Regions from separate parts of the Homo sapiens genome. Here region 2 is linked to region 1. Evidence: fine-mapped expression QTL. A gene starts in region 1. The other region holds a variant in brackets. All regions are shown on one strand. Distances are between the middles of the regions.

The links. PIP is the estimated chance that this variant, and not a neighbour inherited with it, causes the effect.
Region 2: its variant is the best candidate, but not a certain one, in a credible set for the expression of HCFC1 in T cells (TOPMed, PIP 0.90).

The regions. Positions count from the first base shown.
Region 1 is chrX:153,970,293-153,974,671 of GRCh38, forward strand. It overlaps HCFC1 (host cell factor C1), which reads right to left and starts at 1,526. Exons shown (of 26, transcript NM_005334.3): 1 at 356-1,526. The coding sequence starts at 548. TMEM187 (transmembrane protein 187) reads left to right here and starts at 2,462. Exons shown (of 2, transcript NM_003492.3): 1 at 2,462-2,568. RefSeq lists enhancers at 1-136, 126-975, 617-1,376 and silencers at 1,607-1,846, 2,077-2,526, 2,637-2,746.
Region 2 is chrX:154,317,382-154,321,760 of GRCh38, forward strand. TKTL1 (transketolase like 1) reads left to right here. Exons shown (of 13, transcript NM_012253.4): 8 at 3,376-3,532. Among named protein-coding and RNA genes, the nearest start is that of TKTL1, 24 kb to the left of the region's middle. The variant G/A (reference allele first, on the strand shown) is at 2,561.

The DNA.
Region 1 (4,379 bases):
AGTCGGACTAGGGGCTTTCTTTTAACTAACGAAAACCAATCCTCAAACACGGGAGAGACAAGGGAACGGGGAGAAGATCAGAGAAAAGCACTGAAGCCCGGCACAGCAAAGGGGAGGGGCAAGCCGATCAGTGGGGAGGGAGGGGGAGGAGGGGAGAAGGGGGAGGGGGACGGGGAGAGGGGAGAAGGACGGGTAAGGGAGGAGGGGAGAGAGAGAGGGAAGGGTAGAGGGTGAGGGAGGAGATGGAGGGAGGGAGGAGAGGGAGGGAGCAGATGGAGGGAGGGAGGAAAGAGGAGGGAGAGGGAGGAGATGGAGGGAGGGAAAGAGCCGAAGACCCAGCGGGCTTTGCACTCACCCGTGTTGTACACGTGCAGTTCGTCCACTATTCCCTCGTTGCCGCCGCCAAACACCACGATGAGCTCCTTGATGGCCACGGCGCGGTGGCCGTGGCGGGGCCGTGGCACCGGACCCGACCAGCCCACCACTCGCTTCCAGCGGGGCTGCAGAAGCACCGCTGGCAAGTTGGCGGGCGACACGGCCGAAGCCATAGTTCCGGGAAAGGGTGCGGTGGGGAGAAGTCAACAAGCGGGAAGGGAGCCCCTCAATTCCTTTCACACACCCCCTTTCGTCTAAGGCAGCTCTCACGGAGAAGCGGTTTCTCACACAGCGGTAGACGACTCCATGGAGGCCGCCATCTTAACTGCCCTCCTTCCCTTTGGCTCTTCCCTTTCTTCTCGCTCACCCCGTCTCCGCAAGAGCCGCCCGAAACTGTCGAGCGCCTAGGCTCAAGAAGCTGGAGGCCGCTGAGTCCCGTCGCCCCGACTACTTGTCCGGGCGCTCCCGCTTACAAGCTCGGGCGGGAGGCCCTGGGAGCCGCCATCTTGAGCCGCCTCTCTCTCCTCCCTTCCTCAGTCGTAGCCCTCCCCCGCCGGAAATGGCGGAGCCCCGGCCCGGTTCCCACACCCCCAAGTCCCCAGCACTGGCCGGCTTCCGGGGCGGGTGGAAAGGAGCCACAAGCGCCGCGGTCGTCGCAGCCCCGCCGGCGCTCAGACCACAATTGTGGGAGCCGCCATCTTGAGACCGTCCCGCTTCCCCGCCCAGCGCCTTAGTGCAGCCGCCGCTCCCGAAACAGCCTCGACACACCTAACGAATGGAGGCGGGCCGGAGGCCGGTGGAACCAGCTCGAGCTCTCGAGGGCCGTTTGGGGGCTCGCGCCGTACGGCTTGTGAAGTCTCGCGCCTCTCCCCTTAGTCCGCCTCTGCTGCTCAGGCTGCGCCTGCCGCCGTGGGAGCCGCCATCTTGAGACTAGCTCCCCGTTCCCCCCTATTCTCTTCCTCCTAGGTCAGTTCTTCCACTGCACACCAAACTCAAGGCGGTGTCCGATCCTCACTTCCCGCCTTATGACTCCTTCCCACAGGAGCCGCTTCAAAGAGCTAGAGTTAGGCCCCGAAGCGGCAACTGTACGGCAGAAGAAGCGGTAACGGCAGGGCGCTCATGCCTCCTCCCTGGGAGCCGCCATCTTGTGTGAAGAAGTAACAACTAAACATGGCGGCAGCGGCGCCGGCGGTCGGGCGAGGAGGCGGAGCCGGGTGACGTCACCGCTTCCCCCCACTCGCCCTCGCACCGCTTCGCCCCTGGGCCCAAGCCTCTTAAAGGACCCCTGCGCTGCCTCGCGGCGGGGGTGGGGGTCGGCGCTGCCGCGCGCTGGGCTAAAGCTCGAGTCGCGCTCAGATCAGGTGCAGGCGCAGGCGCGCCCCGCCCCACGGCCCCCCCACCGGGCGAGCCTCCACGCCTCCGCCCTGGGAGCCGCCATCTTGCCACTTCCCCTCGCCCGGCCGTCCGCGGGCGTCAATAGCGACTTTCAGCACAAAACAAAGATGGCGGCGGCGGCATCTCGGAAATGCCCGGATGAGACTGCTAACCCCTCCGACGCGCTCGGCCCCGCCCCCTTGGGAACGGTCTCTCGGGTTGATAAGGGACGCACGCCCGAAGAACTGCCTTTAACCAGCACTGGGGACAGCGGCACGCAGGTGGCCGGGGTTGGCGAACAGCCACTGCAGCCGCGCCTGCGGCCGGGAAGCGAGCATTTTCGCGCCCTGCACACCCAGCAGCCGCAGGAGGCGGCCCGAGGCGCGCCGCGGGGGAGCCGGGGGCGGGGCGACAGTGGGAGGCGACGCAGCCGAGCGCCGGCGCCCGGGGGTGGAGCCTCCGCCCGCTCCCAGGCTCCCAGGCTGCGGGGCCCGCCCTCGGGCGCCACCGCCTCCGCCCGCGCCGCAGCAAAATGAGCCGGGCCGCGCGCCCCAGACCGCCGCGCGCTCGGCCGCCCCCACTGCCGAGAGGCCCGCAGTCGGGCCGGTGGCGCACGAGCCGGGCGGGCGACCGCGGGAGGCGTCCGCGTCATCTCGCGTCACCTCGCCCCGCCCGCTTCCCAGGCTTCGAGTCCCGCCCTGCGCGCAGGCGCACCGGCGCTGCTCGGATCCTCCCTTTTCGGAGATTTGAATTTCCCCCAGCGAGGCGAGTGAGGCGAAATACCCGTATGGTGATAGCTGGCCTTTTCGCGCCAATACTGTAAGTGCTCACCGCAGCCCTGGGAGGTGGGTCCCGGCCTCGCCCCCACGTTTCGCCTCCTCTAGGAGGCCGCCCGGGCGCGGCGGCGGCGGCGGCGGCGGCGGCATCCGCCCTGCCACGCGCAGGCCGCAGCGCGGGGACCCAAGCTGCTGCCCGGGAGCGGCAGTCGCCAGTAGAAATGGACAGACCGGTCCTGTCAGAGCCTGTGGCTTTTGTTGTAAACGTCTAGAAGTTCAGTTAAATTACAAGATCTACCAGATCTACCGGCGGGCAGAATTATTACTTTGAAGTTACTGAAGTTATGCGTCCTGCTGGAAGACCTTGTAATTTAATGCGTTAGTAAAGAAGCACACGTCACCCTCTCACACATTTTCAACAATATTTTTAAAGTCGCCTCTCAACATATTACATGTATTTTGTAATCGTCTGTGTTTTAGTTCATGCAGTTGGAAGTATCCATTTGAGAAGGGACAAAGAGAAGAATTCTTGCCTGTCTGTGCCACCACCTGCTCTTTGTGACCTTGGCTAGTTACCTCACATATGTCCCCAAGTCCCCCACCCATGGTAAATAAGAAAACTAAGGCCTGATGCGTTGGCTCATGCCTGTAATCCCAACACTTTGGAAGGCTGAGGTGGGAGGATTGCTTGAGCCTAGCCGGGGCAACATAGCGAGACCCGGAGGCATGGTGGCACACGCCTGTGGTCCCAGGTACTTGGAACGCTGAGGTGGGAGGATGGCTTGAGCCAGGGAGTTCAGGGCTGCAGTGAGCTGAGATCGCGCCACTGCTCCAGCCTGGGCGACAGAGCAAGACCCTGTCTCAAAAACACACACACACACACACACACACACAAAAGCAGCTGCTGGTTTCCAAGGGCCTTGCCTGGAATCAGTCCAGAAGCTAAATTAATGTTAATTGATATTCCTTTATCCACAGAAAGACAGCAAGAAAGGTCATGCGGAGCGGGGGACATAACTAACCATAAATGCTAAAGGCCTGGAGGTGACAGTGCCTGCTGTTTAAACGCGTGCGGGAGAGTCTGGGGCCTTTAGCCAGGAGATTGTCAGGCTTCCCAGGGCTTCCCTGAAAGACCCCAGACCCAGGGGCCAGTGCTGTTGAGGTGTTGGCTTTCCCATGCCAGGCGCTGGGGGAAGCTGTGACGAGATTTGAGTGTCACATAATAAGGATCATGGCAATTCAAAGGTACAGGGAAGCTAGGCTATAAGGTAACCAGCTCGGTTTTCCTGGGGGTCTTGGACAGGTGCTTTGATTACATGGTCACTGTCAGCCCGTACCCCCGGTCAGATAGACTGAACCCCTGCAGCCGGAAAGAGGAGTTGCTTTCCATGCCCTTCCTGGAGTTCTTCCTCGATCAAGTTGACAGTGTTTGACTCTTGTTCCAGCTCTCCGCCCTGCTTGCTGGCAGGCAGGAGGGTCAGACTAGCATGGGTGCCATGGGGCCCTAGGTGGGTGCAGGGAAGGACCTGTAGACGCCATGCGGGGCCTCAGCTGGTGTCTCAGCTGGAGTCAGGAGCTGAACGGGGAAGTGCCTGAGAGGAAATGACAGCTGAGTCAAGGGCAATGGCCAGGCGAAGTGGGCAAAGGGCTTCCAGGACAGAGCTGGGCCTGAGGAGCTCACAGGGCTGGATGGGGATGGCACTTTAAGTCTGGCCAAGACTTTGGGACATGATCCAGGACATGGAATGGGAAGCTGGTCATGGAAGGGTGGAAAGCCAGGGCAGACATGATCCCATCCAGGGCTGCTCAAAGATGCTGGGGCTGCGGTGTGCACACCCCTGGACCCAGAGGCTT
Region 2 (4,379 bases), 350 kb after region 1:
ATGTGGGAGACAGCATTTCAAGCAAGGGGCATGGCCAACTGTAGGCAGGCCCAGGCTTGGAATGTTTGGAGAGCAGAGGAAGGGCCAAGTGGTAGGAGCATGGTGAACGCAGAAAACTCTCCAGGGCCCAGGTCATACGGGGTCTTATAGGCGCCCTTTTCAGTATCTCTGGTTCTCTTGCAGTTTGCTGGGAAGCCACTGGAGGGCTTTAAGCAGGAAAGCAACAGCCTGCGTTTTCCAAAACTCTGAAGACTGGAGAATGGCTTCACGTAGGAAAGGGAGGAGAAGGAGAGGGTGACTTGGACCAGGGCAGTAGCTGTGGAGTCGGAGGGAAGCAGACTTGTCACATATTGCCTTGGCAGGAGAGCCAGCAGGATGCCAACGGCAGGTGTCAGGACAGGACCCAAGGCTGGTGCTTGAGTGTGGGTGGCAGCACCTGGGGGAAGGTGGTGTCACCTCTTGAGATTGACAAGACTGGGGGAGAAGTGGACTGGAGGGCACCATCAGGAGCTCTGTGTGGGCCTGGGGGGTTGGGGCACCTGTTAGATGTACAGAGGGGAGACAGTGGTATCAGATGGCTGGGCAGTAGATCAGTCAGTCATTTTCACATGTGGCCGCTCCACACCACTAAATGCAGTTTTCTAAACTACATATTCGTTGGCCTAGTTTTAAGCTAACATCTTTTTTTTATTTTTATTTTTTGTAGAGATGGAGTCTTGCTCTGTCACCCAGGCTGGAATGCAGTGGCACAATCATGGCTCCCTGCAGCCTCAAACTCCTGGGCTCAAGGGGTCCTCTGGCCTCGGCCTCTTGAGGAGCTGGGAGCCGCCATGCTTGGCCACATCTACATTTTTAATCATAAATTTAAGTCGTTGCAAAGGATGTAGTTGTTCATATATTGACATTTTTGATACTTTAATACTCAAATCATGCCATTAATGATGACACTGGCTGGGCATAGTGGCTCACACCTGTAATCCCGGCACTTTGGGAGGCTGAAGCTGGAGGATTGCTGGAGTTCAAGAGTTCGAGACCAGGCCGGGTGCGGTGGCTCACGCCTGTAATCCCAGCACTTTGGGAGGCCGAGGCGGACGGATCACGAGGTCAGGAGATGGAGACCATCCTGGCTAACATGGTGAAACCCCTTCTCTACTAAAAATACAAAAAAAAAAAAAAATTAGCCGGGCGTGGTGGTGGGTGCCTGTAGTCCCAGCTACTCGGGAGGCTGAGGCAGGAGAATGGCGTGAACCCGGGAGGCAGAGCTTGCAGTGAGCTGAGATTGCGCCACTGCAGTCCAGCCTGGGCGACAGAGCGAGCCTCCGTCTCAAAAAAAAAAAAAAAAAAAAAAGTTCAAGACCAGCCTGAACAACATAGTGAGACCTGGTCTGTAATTAAAAAAAAAAAATTCATGCCAAGCCACTTTTCTTTGTCAGAAATTAAAACCCTTTTTCTACTTGATTTCCAATTTCCATTCCATTCATTTCCCCAATATATCTTTATGCATGAAAGCCTTTTATTGATTGTCCTATCATTTTTCTCTGCAACAAAAATATGCATATAAATTGATAGGTTTTTAAAAAATTATAATATAGGCTTCTGAGCATTAGGTTTTTTTTTCTGGACTGAGATAGAATTTTGATTATTATTAGCTGGTATGTTAGTGGATGAGTATACTTGTAGTTTGAATGTGATAGCATTGAGAACAGATTCTATTCCTGTTTTTCATCTTCATGATGTGCTATGAAACCTTACTTACATGAATAAGTAGATGGGAAGGGAAGTTTTGTTAGAGGAATGTCACTCAGTTCTTTGAATTCCTTCCCAGTTGTAAGTCAAAAAATCACATAGTGATCTTTCATGTAAAGTTGTTTATAAAAGTTATTTACAGAGTTGACAGTTTCATTAATTAAGTTCTTCACTTTCTCTCCACCAGCATAGTTATTTCAAATTGTCCTCTTTACTTGGGTCTGGAGGTTCTGCACTCCAGGATGATCCCCCTGTAAGAGTCAGGTGGCTGAGAGCATGCCCTTTGGGGATCAGGTTGCTAGAAGGTGATTGTTAAAAGAGACAGTGGGAGACCCAGGGGCAGTGGCTCACGCCCGTAATCCCAGAACTTTGGGAGGCCGGCCGAGGTGGGTGGATCACCTGTCAGTTCGAGACCAGCCTGACCAATATGGTGAAACCTCGTCCCTACTAAAAATACAAAAATTAGCCAGACGTGGTGGCGGGTGCCTGTAATCCCAGCTACTCGGGAGGCAGAGACAGGAGAATCGCTTGAACCCAGGAGGTGGAGGTTGCAGTGAGCCAAGATTGCACCAGTGCACCCCAGCCTGGGCAACAGAGCAAGACCCTGTCTAAAAAAAAAAAAAAAGACCATGAGGGGAGCACAGACCCTCCTTTTGGCAGATGAATGTAGACAGAGTTGATCTGGAGTTTGGGATCTTGAGTGTAACACCCACAGCCACATCCCCTTTGGAAAGCCTGTGTGTATCCGCAGAGAGGTTTGTATTCTAGTTTGAAGCCTTCTGGGGTATTTGAGCCCGGACTTCTGGGGAAGGGG[G/A]GTAAGGAATGGCAATGTAAAGTGGGGATCATTACCAGAATGCACATCAGGGGAGCATTGGGCCAGATGCGACTTCCCGAGGGTGCACAGGGCCCTGAGGACTTGCCCCAGCAGCGCCCATGAGGCGACAGCAGTGGGCCACTGCCACACTGCAGAAACCGAGAGGAGGAAATGCCTTGAGATCAGGGGCCAAGTCAAGTCACAGGCCACCCAAGGTCAGGCAGCCTCTTGGTTTTGTGGCTTCGAGGTCCCTTGTGGGGATGGTGGCCTAGATGAAGTAGGCTGGGAAGAGCGTGGAAAATGAGAAAGCAGGGGCAATGACTATAGGCAAGTTTTGAGAAGTTTGCTGCGAAGGAGAACACAGATGTAAAAGCAGGACAAGGCGGAGATGGGGCTGTGAAGATAAAAGGTGCTGGCGCACACCTGAATGGAAATAGAATGATCCAAGAGAAAGGGAAGTAGCACAAGAGGGGAGGAGGAGCTGCATGGCTGGAGACCCCTGTGAGAAAGCAGGAACAGGACAGATTCAGGATGTCCTGTCGGGGCATGGACCCTGGAAAGCTGCGGACACCAGGAGGGCAGGCAAGAGAGTCTCATCTCTTGCTCCCTAGGAGCTATGAGTTGAGGGCGCCGTCTGAGCAGGAGGGACGGACGGGTGCCCAGGGTTTGAGGAAAGAGGGGTGTGGGAAGGACGCATGCTAGAACTTCAGAGCAGTTCAGCAGGTGCAGAATGGGAGTTATCATGGGGACTGTGGGAGAAGGGGCGGTGGGGGCAATGCCCAGGGATGTTCTGATTCATGTTCTCTGTGCTGCAGGTGAGCGTGGCTCTGGGCTGTGCCTCCCGTGGACGGACCATTGCTTTTGCTAGCACCTTTGCTGCCTTTCTGACTCGAGCATTTGATCACATCCGGATAGGAGGCCTCGCTGAGAGCAACATCAACATTATTGGTTCCCACTGTGGGGTATCTGTTGGTAAGGGTTCTAAATGCCATCATCTTGGTAGCCTTCCTCCTTCACAGAGAAAGATTAGCATGTGATTGGTTAAACCACGAATTTCCTTATGGTTCCATGAAGTTTGATTATTCAAGCCTTTTTCTTGAAAAAGCCATATTGTACTTTAAAAGTGTCAGACTCTCAGGGCAACTTTTGAAGTGCATCTCTCGGTGGTACTGTTGTTTCAGACAGTGAGAAACAGTTGCTTATCCCGAGTGCCCCTTGTGTGTTGAGCTGCGTGCAGGTTATGGACAGGACTGGCAGAGTCATGGAGCCTTTTCTGCCCTCGCTGTGGTTGCAGTCTAACTGAGGGTGAACAGCATCACAGAGGACGAGGAGCATTCTGGCTGGCTGCACAGCCTGCTCAGGTGGGAGGGGGGCTGGGACCACCATCACCACCTTCCTGCCTGGGGCAGCGAGAACCCTGGAGCGTGACACGAGGCAGGAACTCTTACAAACACACCCTTCTCAGAGTAGTAGTCACCTGGCAGGTGGGCTAGAAGGAAACCACAGGAAACGGGAAGCCAGAGAGGGGATTGAAACAAGGTGTGCAAGGTGGTGGGGGAGAAAACCAGGGGGGTGGGGGGGGACCTGAGAGTGAAGAAAGAGGTGAGTGTGCCTAACAGATGGAGCACTCTGCAATGGCGTGAAGAGCAAAACACACGAGTCTCCGGGATTCCTCACTTGGGAAACGTCAGAGAGTCATTTTCGTGAATGACAGAAATGACATGGGAAAGATGAGCCAGCTGGCGTGCCTGTGGCAGGCAGATGGGCTTACTAGATGTGGCTGCACACACTTGCTTCTAGAATGCCAGAGATGCACGCT